2 separate regions of the Homo sapiens genome follow, and region 1 is linked to region 2. Evidence: fine-mapped QTL for protein levels in blood plasma. A gene starts in region 2. The other region holds a variant in brackets. All regions are shown on one strand. Distances are from middle to middle.

Region 1 (8,333 bases), 52 kb before region 2:
AATAGTCCAATAACAGGCTCTGAATTTGAGGCAATAATTAATAGCTTACCAACCAAAAAAAGTCCAGGACCAGATGGATTCACAGCTGAATTCTACCAGAGGTACAAGGAGGAGCTGGTACCATTCCTTCTGAAACTATTCCAATCAATAGAAAAAGAGGGAATCCTCCCTAACTCATTTTATGAGGCCATCGTCATCCTGATAACAAAGCCTGGCAGAGACACAACAAAAAAAGAGAATTTTAGACCAATATCCCTGATGAACATTGATGCAAAAATCCTCAGTAAAATACTGGCAAACCGAATCCAGCAGCACATCAAAAAGCTTATCCACCATGATGAAGTGGGCTTCATCCCTGGGATGCAAGGCTGGTTCAACATATGCAAATCAATTAACGTAATCCAGCATATAAACAGAACCAATGACAAAAACCACACGATTATCTCAATATCTCAATAGATGCAGAAAAGGCCTTCGACAAAATTCAAGAACCCCTCATGGTAAAAACTCTCGATAAATTAGGTATCAATGGGATGTATCTCAAAATAATAAGAGCTATCTATGACAAACCCACAGCCAATATCATACTGAATGGGCAAAAACTGGAAGCATTCCCTTTGAAAACTGGCACAAGACAGGGTTGCCCTCTCTCACCACTCCTATTCAACATAGTGTTGGAAATTCTGGCCAGGTCAATCAGGCAGGTGAAGGAAATAAAGGGTATTCAAATAGGAAAAGAGGAAGTCAAATTGTCCCTGTTTGCAGACGACATGATTGTATATCTAGAAAACCCCATTGTCTCAGCCCAAAATCTCCTTAAGCTGATAAGCAACTTCAGCAAAGTCTCAGGATAAAAAATCAATGTACAAAAATCACAAGCATTCTTATACACCAATAACAAACAAACAGAGAGCCAAATCATGAGTGAACTCCCATTCAGAATTGCTTCAAAGAGAATAAAATACCTAGGAATCCAACTTACAAGGGATGTGAAGGACCTCTTCAAGGAGAACTACAAACCACTGCTCAAGGAAATAAAAGAGGATACAAACAAATGGAAGAACATTCCATGCTCATGGTTAGGAAGAATCAATATCATGAAAATAGCCATACTGCCCAAGGTAATTTATAGATTCAATGCCATCCCCATCAAGCTACCAATGACTTTCTTCACAGAATTGGGAAAAACTACTTTAAAGTTCATGTGGAACCAAAAAAGAGCCCGCATTGTCAAGTCAATCCTAAGCCAAAAGAACAAAGTTGGAGGCATCACGCTACCTGACTTCAAACTATACTGCAAGGCTACAGTAACCAAAACAGCATGGTACTGGTACCAAAACAGAGATATAGACCAATGGAACAGAACAGAGCCCTCAGAAATAATGCTGCGTATCTACAACTATCTGATCTTTGACAAACCTGAGAAAAACAAGCAATGGGGAAAGGATTCTCTATTAATAAATTTTGCTGGGAAAACTGGCTAGCCATATGTAGAAAGCTGAAACTGGATCCCTTCTTTATACCTTATACAAAAATCAATTCAAGATGGATTAAAGACTTAAACGTTAGACCTAAAACCATAAAAACCCTAGAAGAAAACCTAGGCAATACCATTCAGGACATAGGCATGGGCAAGGACTTCATGTCTAAAACACCAAAAGCAACGGCAACAAAAGCCAAAATTGACAAATGGCATCTAATTAAACTAAAGAGCTTCTGCACAGCAAAAGAAACTACCATCATAGTGAACTGGCAAGCTACAGAATGGGAGAAAATTTCTGCAATCTAACCATCTGACAAAGGGCTAGTATCCAGAATCTACAATGAACTCAAATTTACAAGAAAAAAACAAACAACCCCATCAAAAAGTAGGTAAAGGATATGAACAGACACTTCTCAAAAGAAGACATTTATGCAGCCAAAAGACACATGAAAAAATGCTCATCATCACTGGCCATCAGAGAAATGCAAATCAAAACCACAGTGAGATACTATCTCACACCAGTTAGAATGGCGATCATTAAAAAGTCAGGAAACAACAGGTGCTGGAGAGGATGTGGAGAATTAGGAACACTTTTACACTGTTGGTGGGACTGTAAACTAGTTCAACCATTGTGGAAGTCAGTGTGGTGATTCCTCAGGGATCTAGAACTAGAAATACCATTTGACCCAGCCATCCCATTACTGGGTATATACCCAAAGGATTATAAATCATGCTGCTATAAAGACACATGCACACATATGTTTATTGTGGCATTATTCACAACAGCAAAGACTTGGAACCAACCCAAATGTGCAACAACAATAGACTGGATTAAGAAAATGTGGCACATATACACCATGGAATACTACACATCCATAAAAAAGGATGAGTTCATGTCCTTTGTAGGGACATGGATGAAGCTGGAAACCATCATTCTCAGCAAACTATTGCAAGGACAAAAAACCAAACACCACATGTCCTCACTCATATGTGGGAATTGAACAATGAGAACACATGGACACAGGAAGGGGAACATCACACACCAGGGGCTGTTGTGGGGTGGGGGGAGGGGGGAGGGATAGCATTAGGAGATATACCTAATGCTAAATGATGAGTTAATGGGTGCAGCACACCAACATGGCACATGTATACATATGTAACAAACCTGCACGTTGTGCACATGTACCCTAAAACTTAAAAAAAAAAACAAGCTGATACCTAGTGTTCTTTGTTCTTTCAGTAGATGGTTAGTGAGTTGTTGCCACAAGAAGGGACACAGGAGAGGCTCAGGAAAACGAAGCCTTTTATACCTACAGGTCCTAGAGTGACAGTCACTGCATGCCAAGAAGGGGTCACATCCTCCCCACCCTTTAAGGTCCAGTTCAAATTGTGCTTTCTTCAGAAAACTTTTTTGATTACTGTCACTCCAGATAAATATTTCCATTCTGTAAATCCCACCCATGTATGGAAGGAAAGATCAATGAGACTCTAAGACTGATTTCAGGCTTACTATGTGGTTTGCAACATGGAGAGTGGGCTTAGCCCAGCAGGCAGGGCGCTGAGAGAGAGCAAGGACCGGTTGGGCAGGTGGAGTCAGGGTGGAGCACACAGCATAGGGCATGAAGAGAGTTCATGTGTGTGCTGGAATGTTACCAGGTCACTGTCAGGGGAGGACAAAAAGGGGGATAGAGAGCTCACCATGAGAGATGTTATGTCTGAATGACTGAAGAGATGGTCAAGACTAAGGTTGACCATAGGTGACCTTCACCTTCTGCCTCACCACCTCCAACCTCTCCTTCCCCTGGCTACGGACATGAGAGAATTCAATGAAATGTTGTGGTGCATGGAGTGGGCACATCAATGGGGATGGGAGGTATGAACACAGTGACACTCAGCCACAGCCAATGATGTTGAGCTT[T/C]ATTAATGGCCCCTCTCCAGAGGCTGCTCAGTTGTCCCCAGGGAACTCCTCAGAGATCCTCTGCCTTCCCACATATGAGCCCGAGGACACCTCGGGAGCAGAGAAGTGAAAGGGTTTCCGGGTCAGACGCTGCACTCCACGCCTGCGTCCTCCTCGTGGCTGCAGTCATGATGGCCCCAGCTATTCTTGGTGCAGCTCCACAGGGTACTCTCCGTGCCCCGACACTGAACATTATCCAGCCAGATCTGCCCAGTGCCTTGATAGAGAGAAAGCAAGAGACAGAGGAAGAAGGGTAGGATTAGAGTCAAAGCAAAGAAGCCACGTGTGCGCCTGGGAGCTTCCATCTGAGGTGGACTGCCGACTTCTCACTCATTCTGGCCCATTCCGGCCCAATGTGCTGATGGCTGGCTTAGCCTGTTTTTGTTGTTGTTGTTGTTGTTGTTGTTGTTTTTATAATGACTTTGCCTCCGTTCTATTCTCTACCCTTTGACAAAAGTCTCATGCAAATCTTTAATGCTTAAACCCCACACTATTTGAAATATCTTCCTAGGCGGGTGTCCTTTAGTTTCCTCCCTGCAAATTCACTCCTGCTGCGTCCACCTGCCTCACATGCCTCTGTAATCAAGCCATCGCCCTGCTCTAAAGTGGGCATTTGCTTTGGTTTGGGTAAGGACAGGGAGCACTTGGGGCTGGGAGCAAGGGAAACTGGCCTCATGTCCTGCTGGGCCAGATCCTATAGCCAGAGAAAAGGGTTCTGCCTGGGGACTTAACTTCTTTGCTCAAGGCTTGAACTTTTGGCTGAAAGATATAGGCTGAGTCTCCAGCATCCGAAGACATTTTCCACACATTTTAGTAAGTCCCTGCTCTGATTTGCTTTCTCTTCCCTTCCCATCTTCTCTTTAAAGATGATCACAGCCAAGACTGCTTGCTGGTCAATCCAGGCTGCTGGTTCACAGACAGCTGGAGTGAACATCTGCGTTTGCCTGCCCTGAATCTTCTCTCTGTTCTTCCAGTTGCATCAACTCAGCTGTCCTTTGGAGAGCCATCTGCGGCAAACACCCTCAGCCATGTGGCATTCTGACTCCAGGGCTGGATGGACCTTGACCGAAGCCAGGCCAGCCTTCACTGTCAGCGCTGGAGAAGACAGGCCATCTTTCTGCTGGGGTTGCCAAGCTGGAAGGATGCATACCTGGAGCCCTGCACTGCAGAGCTTTTTGGTTGCTTGGACCAATATTTTTCTTTTAAAGAAAACCACACTGAGTCACTTGCCAACACCCCACCAGCGAGAGAAAGCCACATCCACACCTCTGGGGAAGAGGCCCCCGGCTGATGACTCACTTACCAGCTCCCACTTTGTACAGGGCCCTTCCTTTGGAGTAACCCAGCATGCGGCAGAAGACAATGGCATCAGAATTTTGCCACTCGTCATCGCAAATTGTCCCCCAGGTACCACTGTAGTAAACTTCAGCCCGGCCTCGGTTACTACTGCCGACAATCCTGACGGACACTGAGTTTTCACCTGGGTGAAGAAACACACATGGGAGAGGCAAGGAAGGCCCCTTGGGGCTTTGGGTAAGTGCGGGCTCTTTCTTTTCATTTTGGAGTTCTACAGTTAAGGAAAAGAAATGCCCCTGCTTGACTGTCACCAGAGCCTGGAAGATCCCACTTTACAGTGCCAACCCAACCTGGCACGCAGCCTCCATGCACCTGGGGCCTGCAGGCACAAGGCCACAGGGGCAGGTGCCCCTGTGGCTGGTTTGCAAATCGCATACACCACGTCTTGTCATGTGTTGTGGAGAGAAAAAAAGGAAAGCTGAGAAAAGAGAAGGAAGGAAGGAAAGAATGGAGAGAGAGAGGGAAAGGAAGGAGGGATGGAGAGGAAAGAAAGAAGGGAAAGGGGAGGAAGGGAGGGAGGGAGAGAGAAAAGGAAAGGAAGAAGGAGAAAGGGGGAAGGAAGGGAGAGAAGGAAGGAAGGGAGAGAGTGGCTGGGGAGAGAAACTGCTGCTCTGTGCCGTGGGCAGGCTCATTCAAGGGACTAGACCCTCAACTCCTCCCCAAAATGAGAAATTTATTTGAGAACCAAGGTCTCTTCCCCCAACACACACAATTTTCAGGTGCAGAATTGACTTTAAAGCACACATTAAAGATAATATAAATAGTGATTACCTCTTTCACCTTTTTCTCCCTTTACTCCTTGCTCCCCAGAAGATCCTGTCATGAGGAGAAAACCCACACGGTTTGAAAGAAACCCAGGCAGGACGCCTTTGCCTGCATTTGCATGAGTGGGGAGCGGGTGGAGGGTTGGGAGTGGTCAGATGCTCCGTGGGTCTCGCCTGTGGCCTGGCATTATGGGGATGGGATGTCCTGCGGGTGTCAATGACTGAGCAGGAAGAAACGGGCCTGAGCTACAGCAAGAGGGGTTGAAGTTAGATTGGTGAGGGATGCTTGGTCTGGTCAGAGATATGGAGTGGGATGGGCTCATCTCCTTCATGGAAACTGCCTAGGAGTGTTGGGTCGTGGGGCATGGCTCAAGTGCATGTTCACGCCCCTGCCTTGGATGCTAGAGCTGCGCCTAACCCGCTGCTGTGTGCTCCATGCCTAGGGCAAGCCCCAGCACAAGACTTGTCAATCAAGGAAATAAACCTCTACCCTCCTGGGTTCTGAAAATCCCCAGAACTCTTAAAACAGCGCCTTTCCTATTTTAAGGTACAGAACTGGCTGTAAAGCACAGTCCTAAGAACAAAGGAATCAGATGCAGAGGCCTTACCTTTCACTCCCTGGTCTCCCTTCTGGCCAGCTTGTCCAGGGGCTCCCTTGGGACCTGCCAGCCCTGGGCTCCCCTGTTCTCCCTTCACACCTGCAGGGCCTGGAAGGAGAGACACTGCCCTGATCAGGTGCCCTGCTTTGCCTTCCCAAGAGAGACCCAAGGGCATTACTGTTTAATAAATGAGTTATCCTTAACTGCCAGACCTCCCCCATGGCTGGGCTATCTGAATGTTCAGCCTGTCTTTGGTCCATCTGGGGGCTGCACTGATCTCTCAACTCTTAGGTAAATGCTGTCGAGAACAGGCAGGCTAAAATAGCTGGTGGTATTCCACAGATTCTTGGTCCTTCTGGAATTACATAGTTATGTGGAAGTTCTAGCCATGCTGGGAGAATTTGCTAGAATGTTTCTAAGCCTCGATGTCTCCTTTAGTGAATTGAAATAGTAACAGAGGCCGAGTACAGTGGCTTACTCCTGTAATCCCAAGCTTTGGGAGACGAAGGTGGGAGGATCACTTGATCCCGGGAGGCCAAGGCTACAGTGAGCTATCCTGTCCTGGCACCACTGCATTCGGGCCTGGGTGACACAGAGAATTTGTCTCTAAAAAAATTGAAAAAAAAAAAAACCATAAAACATAATAGAATATCTAGCTTATGAGGAAGAAAACTTGCTCAAGAAATGTGTCTGAAAAATCTCACTTTTGCACTCACAGGGGCAGGGCTCTTGAGAGGCCTAGAAACACCGTCCAGCTGGTGCCAGCTCAGTACCCAACTGAAGCACAGGCTCTGGAGGTGAGGATAAGAATAAGAAAGCCCAGTGACAGGCAGCAGGAGGCAGAGAGGAGAAGCTTGGGGGCCAAGAAGAGACAAGTGGGCCACAGCTGAGGTGGGGAAGCAGCAGCCGTGGATGGAGCAGAAGGGGCACAGCTCCATGGCGGCTGTAGAGCCTGGAGCCTCTGCCTGCACCCCCAGCTCTCCTGACATTTTTCCCCTTTGCCATCCTCAGCCCCTTTGCCATCCTCAGCCCCTGCCCCATACGCTACACCCCTCAGGATGTTGAGTTCCTGTGGTTCCCAGGTTTTGCAGCGGAGAAATCTGAGGCTTGAGTGACAGAGCCCTGGAGTCTTAACCTCCACTTTGGGAGAAGGTCACAGCTGTGCATTCAATGTCAACAAGACCTGCCCTCTGAGAAGGCAGGCCTTCCCCGTCATCACTCCGAGGGATGAAGATGCAGCCTGCCCTTTACCTGGAACTCCTGATTCTCCTTTTCTTCCTTGCTGTCCTTGAAGTCCTAAGATCAAAACAAAAAAGGGGGGGGGGAGGAGATAATAAAACTTAGGTATTAGACATTTTTAATCTTAGACAACCTCTACCTTTTGTCTGATTAATGCAGATGGAAAGATACATTGGTTCTCCACGATTGTTTAAAGCCTCTTCAGCAGATCATGAAAAGAGACAGTCTGCAGATGAATGAGAACAGGTGTGTTGGGGGTGAAACGGCAAAGTACTGGATGAAAGCCTGGATTAGACAGACCCCAGATGCACCACTGGCCTTCCCTGCCCCCCGGTAACCTGACCTGGCATCTAAATCCAATCCCATTCCCTGCTGTTGCATTTATATTGGAAGAGAATTGGGAGATATTTGGTAAATAAAGTTATCTTTATTGCTAAAAGACTGTGGAGGGGCTCAGTGGCCACCAGGAGCTTTGGAGGTCCTCCTGCATAGTAGATGCTCTTCAAGTATTTGTTGGTTTTTTTCATTGTGGCTCCCAGTGGCTAAAGATTCATGTGGCTAAAGGGTCTAATGTCCAGAAAATGGAAAAATAATAACCACAGTCATTGATGATGATCCTATTGTAGTTAATGTTAAAGGTCCCCCTTTCTTCCTTCTTTCCATCCATTCATCCTTTTTTTTCAGTAAACTTTCATGGAAGGCCCACTGTCCCCAGCATCCTGCTGGGTCACTGAGATAATAATTTGTTCATTTAGCAAGATCATGTCCTCTTGATTTTAAGTGCCAATATTTATTTTATTTCAGAGAAATAGGACTCCTCAAGGCAGTTACACAAACTTGGGAAAATGCAAGCTCATTATTGACTATCAATAACAGTTACTAGAGGGTAATGAGGGGAACACCAACAGTGAGTCATAAGTATCTGTGTCCCCAGC
Region 2 (8,333 bases):
CAACATGGTGAAACCCCGTCTCTACTAAAAATATAAAAGTTAGCCGGGCATGGTGGTGGGCACCTGTAATCCCAGCTACTAGGGAGACTGAGTCAGGAGAATCACTTGAACCCGGGAGATGGAGGTTGCACTGAGCCGAGATCGCTCCCCTGCACTCCAGCATGGGTGACAGAGCGAGACTCCATCTCAAAAAAGAAAAAAAAAAAAAAAAAAAGAAACAAGAGGTTCCGACAGATCACATTGCACAGCCTAACAAGTGCTTGTCTTGTTAGGCTGTGGTAACAGTAGTCTTCCTTGAGAAACCAGACGGCCAGGAGTGTGACAGGAAGCCTAAAGCCAGACACAGATTGCTAATTTTCAAAAAGGTAGAAACAGACACATCCCAGAAAGATATTGCCAACAGGTAAATCCTCTCGTTCAAGCCCAAATGTTCCATTGTTGAGGTGGATGATGGGGCAAAAGAGCAGTTTCTATGGCTCTGAGGAGAGACCTGGGATTCTGTGAGACCCTGAGGGCCACAGAAGCCAACCCTATGTCAAGTCCCCTCAGGAAACTAAAGCAGTCTTTGTGGTGGTTATTCATCCATGGATACATATATCAAATCATCACGTGTACATCATAAATATATACAGTTTGTATTGTTAATCACACTCCTAAAAAGCTAGAATAAAAAATAAAGAAAAGAAAGAGTACCTTAATTCTAGTGCAGATAATGGAATGAAGGAGGCTTGTTCTAATGAGGGAGGCTGGAGGTGATGGCAGGAAAGAGGGATGCAAGTTGCACTGTGCTTCTAGAGGGTACAGTGTGAAATTTACACTCCTCATCCTTTTTTTAAGATTAATTTTAGAAAAAATGAAGGTTATATTCCAAAAGTTTCCCAAACTCACTTCTAAAATTTTCTTCAGCATGTGTTGAAAACTTTCCTAGTCCAGTATCCTTGGGTAATAATAATAAAAAAAAACTAGTTTAATACTTTATAATCAGGGAAAAACAGCATTTTATATTTCAATACCAACAATAGAGAAAAATAAATGAGGAAAATGACATTAGAAATATTTTTCAGTGCTGTTTTTCATGAACCATATGTGGGAATTTTAAGATAATGTATTTTCAAAAGAAAATAAAACTATATATGGCCTAAATAAATAAATCTTCAGCAGACAAAAAATAAGTAATGTGCAGAGCCGGCCCTGAGGGGTCACTGTGTTACCAGAGCCTCACAGTGATTACCTGCATAATGGCACTCTTCTAGAAAGTTTCATATGTTCCACAATCTTTGTATTAGAAGGCAGGATGTTGTGAATGCATATAAGAAAATGTTTCTTTCATCCAAATTGGAGTAGTTTTGGTTTTTTGGTGAGATACTTTAAACATTTTATTTATTTATTTATTGGTGGAGATAGGGTCTCACTATGTTGCCCAGGTTGGTCTCAAATTCCTGGGCTCAAGGAATCCTCCTGCACTGGCTTAGTTACATTTTTAATTGGTGACACACACAACCCAGGTCAGAAATCTAGGGTTCACTATTAACTCCTGCGTCTTCCTCCCCAGCCCTGTCCTGCCATTGCAGTCCAATTGATCTGATTTCCGGTGTTTCTCCAGAGCATTCCTTTATTTTCCTGCCTTCCATCCACTGCCCCTCATCATCTCTTGCTGCCAAGTTCCTCTCTGTCCTCAGCTTCTCTCTCCAGCCATCCCTATGTAGGACAAAGAGCAACCTCACATGCACATTAGTGCCTTTCAGCCCCACATCGGCCCCTTCCTGCTTCCCCACTGACCTCAGGATGAAGTCAAATTTTTTGGTTCCAGCCTCAGTCCCCACTGGTCTTTCCGTCCCAATTTTGGCCAAACAGTATGGAAGTATTTATATTTCTCTGAATATTTCTTGTGAATACAATACAAACATGTGGCGCCCACCCCGCCCCAGGCACTAACTTCTTTCTCTAACGGACTCCCTTTATCCTTTAAACTTTGGAAGAGGTGTCAGCTCTGCCCTCCAGGGCTCTACACCTGGTTAGATCTGTCCATCATGTCCTGTGGAAGTCTCAGTCACAACATGGAAATTGTCAGTTCATGGGCAGCTTACCCTGTCCCCTGTCCCCTCGTGCCAGAAGCCAGAGGCCAGAGGCTATGTTTATTCAAGCCTGTTTCCTCAGTGCTGAGTGCAGTGCCCTGCTGGAAATAGGTGCTGAGTATGCTTGATCAGCTGACTTTGCTTGAACATCTTCAGTCTCTTAAACAGTCATGTATCCAGAATGTTGCATTCTGAGAAGTTCTAAATAGCCAATGATTATTATAGCCATTAGCACTCACACCTTTCTCTGTTATTACACTGTAAATTCCTAGAGGCAGAGCCCCAGACGCTTCATCTTTGTGCGCTGAAAATTCCAGGCAGGGACCTGGGCAGACAGGTGTGGGATGAGAAGGACACTCTGGCCAGGAGATAAAGCCACCAATTTTCCTGCATAGACAACTTCCAGCAAAGCCTGGGAGTGGAAATGACTGATCAACTTGGAAGATGATCCCAAGAGAACGTTCTAGACTAGGAAATCAGAGCTCATTTGTGGAATGCAAGCCCACCCATGACTTCAAATGCTACAAATTCTAGAAGATTTTAAAAATGCATCACCTGTTGAATGCTGAGTGAGAAAATAAAGACAACAGAGTTGACTGAATATTACAGACCTGAGTTTAACCTAAGACAAACTAATTATGAAGCTATGAACATATTTCAGTCAACATGAAATACAGAATATGTTTCCTGACCAGCACATCAGTTATAACAGAAATCCCCTTAAAGAATTTTAAAGAAGCTGTGTTTTGAAAACTGTCATGCTTGGCTTCAGTTTTGTGGTCCCCTTTCAGTGCCCCTGTTTTGCGTTTTCATTGTATCACCCAACCTGTGTGTCAGAATAAGACATTCATTAAAAAAAGGGGACATTTAATAAGCATTGGCATTTTTTCAAGGGAAAATATTTAAATATGATTAAAACAATAGTGAAGCTAAGAAAAACCTGACTATATGCTAAAAATACAGCATCTATTATTAGCATTCCAGAAATTCCAAATTGAAGCACTCCAGACAGTATTAGTGATGATTACGTGCAAAATGCAGCAATAAGCCAAACCTAGACTTTCTATTGACTTGTCTATTTTCGTATCTCGCTAGCAGAAAGACTACATTTCTGGTCATTTCCATTATTGGGGAATCGTACTTTACCATTGATTTCGAAAGGCTCCATTGCAATTTGGTGAAAAGCAGCTTGTTGGGTCTCACTCAAGAGCTCGTCCTCCTTGAGAATTTTCTTATTTCTCATTGCCAAGCTTTATAGATGGCCAAAGTCCTGGAGCCAGCAGAAATGCTCCCCTCAAGAGGAACCACTTGGAGAAAGATCCTTCCCATCGAACCACTGCAGCTGGTTGTAAACCTCGCAGCACTTCCCTTTGGCTCTGATTTCAGAATTTGCAGGATGTTTCCTGACATGATCAGGATTGGACATTTCTCAAACACGGGCTATTCACATGTGGATCTCCCACACAGTGCTGCTGCTTGTTAAGGGGGATCGAGGAGGCTTTGGGACACAAGTTACGGGCCTCTGAATGCACCCGTCACTCCCAGGTCCCTGAGACCCAAAAGCTGGATGGCTCCAGAGAGGGCCAACCAAGCCCTGCCATGGGCCCAGACTCAGCTCTCTGTCCCAGGACCTCTCCAGCCCACAGTGAAATCTCCCTTCTCTGACCTGCCTCAACCTTTAGAGTTCATCCTTGCTGCTCAAAGTGTGGTCCATGGACCAGCAGTATTAGTATCACCTGAGAACTTGTTAGAAATGCAAGTTCACTTGTTCTAACAATGAGTCTCTGGTCCCACCCCATCAGATCAAATCCAAATCTACAGTTTAACTAGATCCCCAGGTGATTTATATACACATTACAGTTTGAGAAGCCTTGCTCTGAACCACACATTTTAGCACTTAGTATTTCTTCTTGTAGTTTTCCCATGTTCTCTCTCTGTGTGTGTACACATGTGTGCACATGTGTACATGTGTTACAGGTGTCCTTGTCCAGGCCCCAGTGAGATCTGAGCTCCTTAAGGAAAGTAGCTTCTCCCCTCTCTCCCTCCCGTCAGGCATCTCTACCAGGGATGCTGTATAGCATGGTGGTTAAGACACAGACACTAAGAGCTAGAATGCCTGGCTTCAAATTCCACCTCTTCCACATAGGGGCTGTCTGGCAGTAGGCAAATCACTTGAGCTTTGAGCATCTCACTCTTCTGTTTGTATAAATAAGGAAGATATGAATTTCGTGAGCCTTAAATGAATTAAATCATATAAGGTGGCTAGGATGGAAGTATTAGGTAATAAACACTATGGTCATGTTGTTGTTATTATCATTAGAGACATTGTGAGCCTGCTGGGCACCGAGGAGATGAAGAAATGGCCTTTTTTCATGAAAGATATTCACAGTCTACCATGCAAGATGGTTGCGGCTACAACTACATTCCAGAAAATTGCTGTGAAGTGCGGCAAAGGTTGATGTCCCTGAAAAGACAGAAGTGCCGGGAGGCAGGGGAGACAGGGCAGAAATATGACAAATAGCTTTATCATCTGAATCAAGAGATATCAGATACCAGAGCTGGGCTTAAAAGGATAATGGGGGATTGATCCAGATCAAGATGAGGCAAAGGCCCTCCAGGGAGGAAGGAGGGCAGGTGCAGCCTCTCAGAGGTGGGACAGCCTGGAGCAGGGGAGCCGTAGACTTTTGGCCTATTTGAAATGTAAGAGGTGAGGAAGACAGGTGGCAGGAAGTGAAGCTGTGCCAGGCGAAGTCACTTTCTTTGGCCCGTGGTATGTCAGAAAGTGAAAGGGGATGAAACTCAGGAAAGTGAGCTCCTAGCAGTGCCCTGAAAAGCAGAGGTCCCCCGTGGCGCCCACAATTTCAACATTCAGGAAGTCACTGGTTCCGCCAGAGGACAAGCAGCAGAAGCCAGGACAGAAAAATTTAAAGAGGAAAATTGGAAATGAGGAAGTGATGGCTCCAGCTAGAGTCTGGGGGGTAGACAGGACCAGATAATTGAGGACACAGGGGATTTGCCCACTGGAGGGCAGTCCCCTAGGCAAAGGAACCCGCTCACTTAGCCTGGCAGAGCTCCCTGCTCTCCCTCTGCCTCTGCCTGGTCAGCTCATCTTTGATTCTCATGGGTGTGGGGAGGGGACTTATTAGAAAATGTCATGGGCTAATTATTGAGGATCCCTGTTCTTAAAGGAAGCACTTAGTGGATGTCAAGTGTAGTCACTTCACCTCTGGCTAGAGACCAGAGAGACTTGGGTCCCAAATTCAACTCTTTCATTAACTTTCTGTGTGACCTTGGTTGACTTACTTCTCTGAACTTCCACACAGAGTAATGGCTTGTGCAAGCATTAATTCCTATCCAGGATTTACTGTTAATGCCAGACACTGTGCTAAACATTTGCATACATTGCTCAACACTCATAACTTGCAACTTGCCTTAAATTGTGTGGTTATAAAGAGCTACACCAGAATTTGAATCCAGACTCTCTGCCTCAATCTATAGACTGATTTAATTCTGGTTTAATCCAGGGGTTCCAATCCAGAGGTTTGCAGTAGAGGAATGCCAGTTTCCCATCCCAAACCTGAGGCTCTGGTTTTAATAAAAATTTCAGAAAGAGCTCTAATGTGCACCAGGCTTAGGACCACCGAGTGGTATAATTGAAGCACTCATGTGCAGTGTGGCCTCCTGACTCCATCCTAGGAGGATCCATTAGGTTGAATCATATGGAATGACAGATATTTATCTGTTTTTCATATGCAATAAATGGATACTTTATATGACTCAAGCTAATCCATTCACCTTGCAGGGCCTGAGACTCAGGGATTAGGATGAAGCAAATAATTCACTAGCCTTGAGTACAAAAGATTCAATAATCAAGATAAATAATATTTTAGTGCAATATATTTAAAAAATCAAAGTTAATGCAAAAATTCTGCGATGAACAAAATATCATCATTTTAAAGGAAGACAGAATCCCACTTTGCACGTACAATGACCCTCCTCATTTGCTTACCCTAGTCCTGGCCCTCTCATTAGCTCTGTGTTTCAGCATCCCCATTACAAAATGGGATGCCCAGAGTTGCCGTGTTTACCCATAGAGTGGATGTGTGGATCAAATAAAATAATAAATGAGTAAGTACATTTGTAAACAAAAGTTCTATATGCAGAATAGCATTTTATATCAAAAGAGCGTGTCATACGAAACTCCTGCACTGTCAATGAATCCCTTAAAAATCCTTTAAATCTTCTATAAATACAAAACACACAATTTAGGAAATATGGTACAGTCTCTTCTGAAGTCTTACTCAGACACTTTTATCTCCAGGAACACAGATCCAGCAGTTTCTTCCCAGGTGAAGTTGCATTTGGAGACAAGTTGTCCAAGAAATGCAGGGTCTGGCTTTATTTGTCTAGCAGCATGCATATAATTGGATTGGAGTATTTAAATGTGCATTTGGGGAGGGCTCAATGCCCAATGTAGTTACATCAAGTTCTGATATTCTCTGAAGTGATGGTCAAGTGGCTCCCAGTGCTTTATCACACAGGAGTGGTGGGGCTGGAGTTCCAGGCAAGTGTGACCACTCTTGATGGTCTCCATGGAGCTTGATTTCCTATCAGCTGGTGGGTTCCAAATTAGTTCAGTCAGTGGGCTGCCTGGCAGATCACCAAGAAGAACCCTTGAGCAACCCAATTCCAGCTTAAAACTGGGGCAACCAAGTTAACGCATGATATAAAAATTACCGGCACAAACCCATGTGTCCGAAACCAACCAACCAATCCACAGCAGACAGGTGAACCGAGCCTTGGGGACCTCTCTGGAGTCCCTTCCACACATCTGCTCAGTCATCTGCCTATGCCCACCAGCGGAAGGGATGGAGAGACTGGACTGAAGGGAATGTATCAGAGAGAAACATTTAAAAGTTCTATCTATTGACTTCATTTTTCCTGCCAGTTGTGAGTGCCCAGGCTTACGTAAGTTCCTGGTAGTTAATGAAGCTCAAGAAGTGTTGATCATTTAAAAATTAGAGAAAATTAACAACACAAATGACCGTGAACAGGCGAATGAATTGTGTCCTATCTATGCAATGGAATACTAGTCTGCAGTAAAATGAAATATGCCACATGAATGAATCTCAGAACCCATTATGCTGAGCAAAAGAAGCTAGACTTCAGACAGGACATACGGTATGATCCCATTTATACAGGCTTCTAGAACAAGCAAAACTCATTCAAAGGGTCAGCAAACAGAGCCATTGGGTCCTGGGGTGGGAGTAAGGGGGACTCTACCAGAGTGGAGCACAAAGGAAACTTCTAAGGAAATGAAAGTTTTCTGTATCTTGTTTGGGGTGTTAGTTACAAAAGTCACTAAACTTTACACTTGAAGTATGTGCATTTTATGGCATGTAAATCATGCCTCAATAAAGTTAATTAAAACAGAAGTTAAAGGACAAAAAGGAATTATTGTTGTTGAACCTTGGCCCAACTCACAGAGGTTTGTCTTTTGAGAGCTATTGGAATGAGGTGACAGTGCCAGCCTCCCAGTAACAGGTGTGGACTGGCCACCCACACTTTTTCTTGCCTGATGAGGATCCTTACACATGCTAGTGTGGCAGGTCAATTCTCCCTGACAACCACACAGACAAGCAGGCATGACCGTCACACAGACAGGCCTGCATAGCACCCTAGTTACACAGACAAATTTCCACAGAGCTGCCTTAACATTGAGCAAATAGTTAAGCCTAGGGAAATAATGCCTAGACATCAAAGCTAGAAATGAAACATGGTCAGTAGGAGCCTTGCATAGTCTTCTCCCTAACCTAGAGCAAACAAAATAATAGAGACAGTCTTACATTCCTAGTGCCAGCACTTCGTCTCAGGTTGACAAAATTTTAGATGAGTAAAGGTAACAGAGGCAGTGTTTGAATAGATTCATTGGAGAGCCTAAGGTAGCTCTCTGGACCAAGCTGTAAAGGAGATAACATAGAAATAATCACTCCGGTACCACAGTAGACAGGCCTTGAAGGTACTGGGGCCCTTTTCGTTGGACTTAGCAAGCATTTTTTGCCTCTGACCTTATAGCTGAAACAAAATTAGTTACCAATAGACTTAAGTGAATGCGATACTGCATGTAGGCACATAACACCAACTATATGAGCACTAAGAAAATGGTAACACTCTGGGTTTGTCTGGTGGAATTATCTCTGGCCTTCTCCCTGAATCCGGTTACAGCAATAAATTCCCTTCTTTCCCAGTTTGTCTGCT

Direction of the effects. Alleles are on the strand shown, and positions count from the first base shown. The strength of an association depends on the size of the effect and on how common the allele is.
For the plasma level of the protein whose gene starts at base 3,425 in region 2, T is the high allele of the variant in region 1 and C is the other (moderate association).

Evidence for each region. PIP is the chance, under the fine-mapping model, that this variant and not a neighbour inherited with it causes the effect. The UK Biobank Pharma Proteomics Project read protein levels with antibody pairs (Olink). The fine-mapping took linkage between variants from a reference panel, not from the people measured, so its PIPs are less certain.
Region 1: its variant is fine-mapped to the plasma level of the MARCO protein (UK Biobank, PIP above 0.99).

The regions. Positions count from the first base shown.
Region 1 is chr2:118,989,711-118,998,043 of GRCh38, reverse strand. It overlaps MARCO (macrophage receptor with collagenous structure), which reads right to left. Exons shown (of 17, transcript NM_006770.4): 13 at 7,411-7,455; 14 at 6,169-6,267; 15 at 5,568-5,612; 16 at 4,744-4,920; 17 at 3,384-3,657. The coding sequence ends at 3,524. LOC124906072 (a long non-coding RNA gene) reads left to right here and starts at 4,726. Exons shown (of 3, transcript XR_007087213.1): 1 at 4,726-4,973; 2 at 6,878-6,956; 3 at 7,558-7,837. RefSeq lists an enhancer at 4,448-5,647. The variant T/C (reference allele first, on the strand shown) is at 3,402.
Region 2 is chr2:118,937,286-118,945,618 of GRCh38, reverse strand. It overlaps MARCO (macrophage receptor with collagenous structure), which reads right to left and starts at 3,425. Exons shown (of 17, transcript NM_006770.4): 1 at 3,222-3,425. The coding sequence starts at 3,318.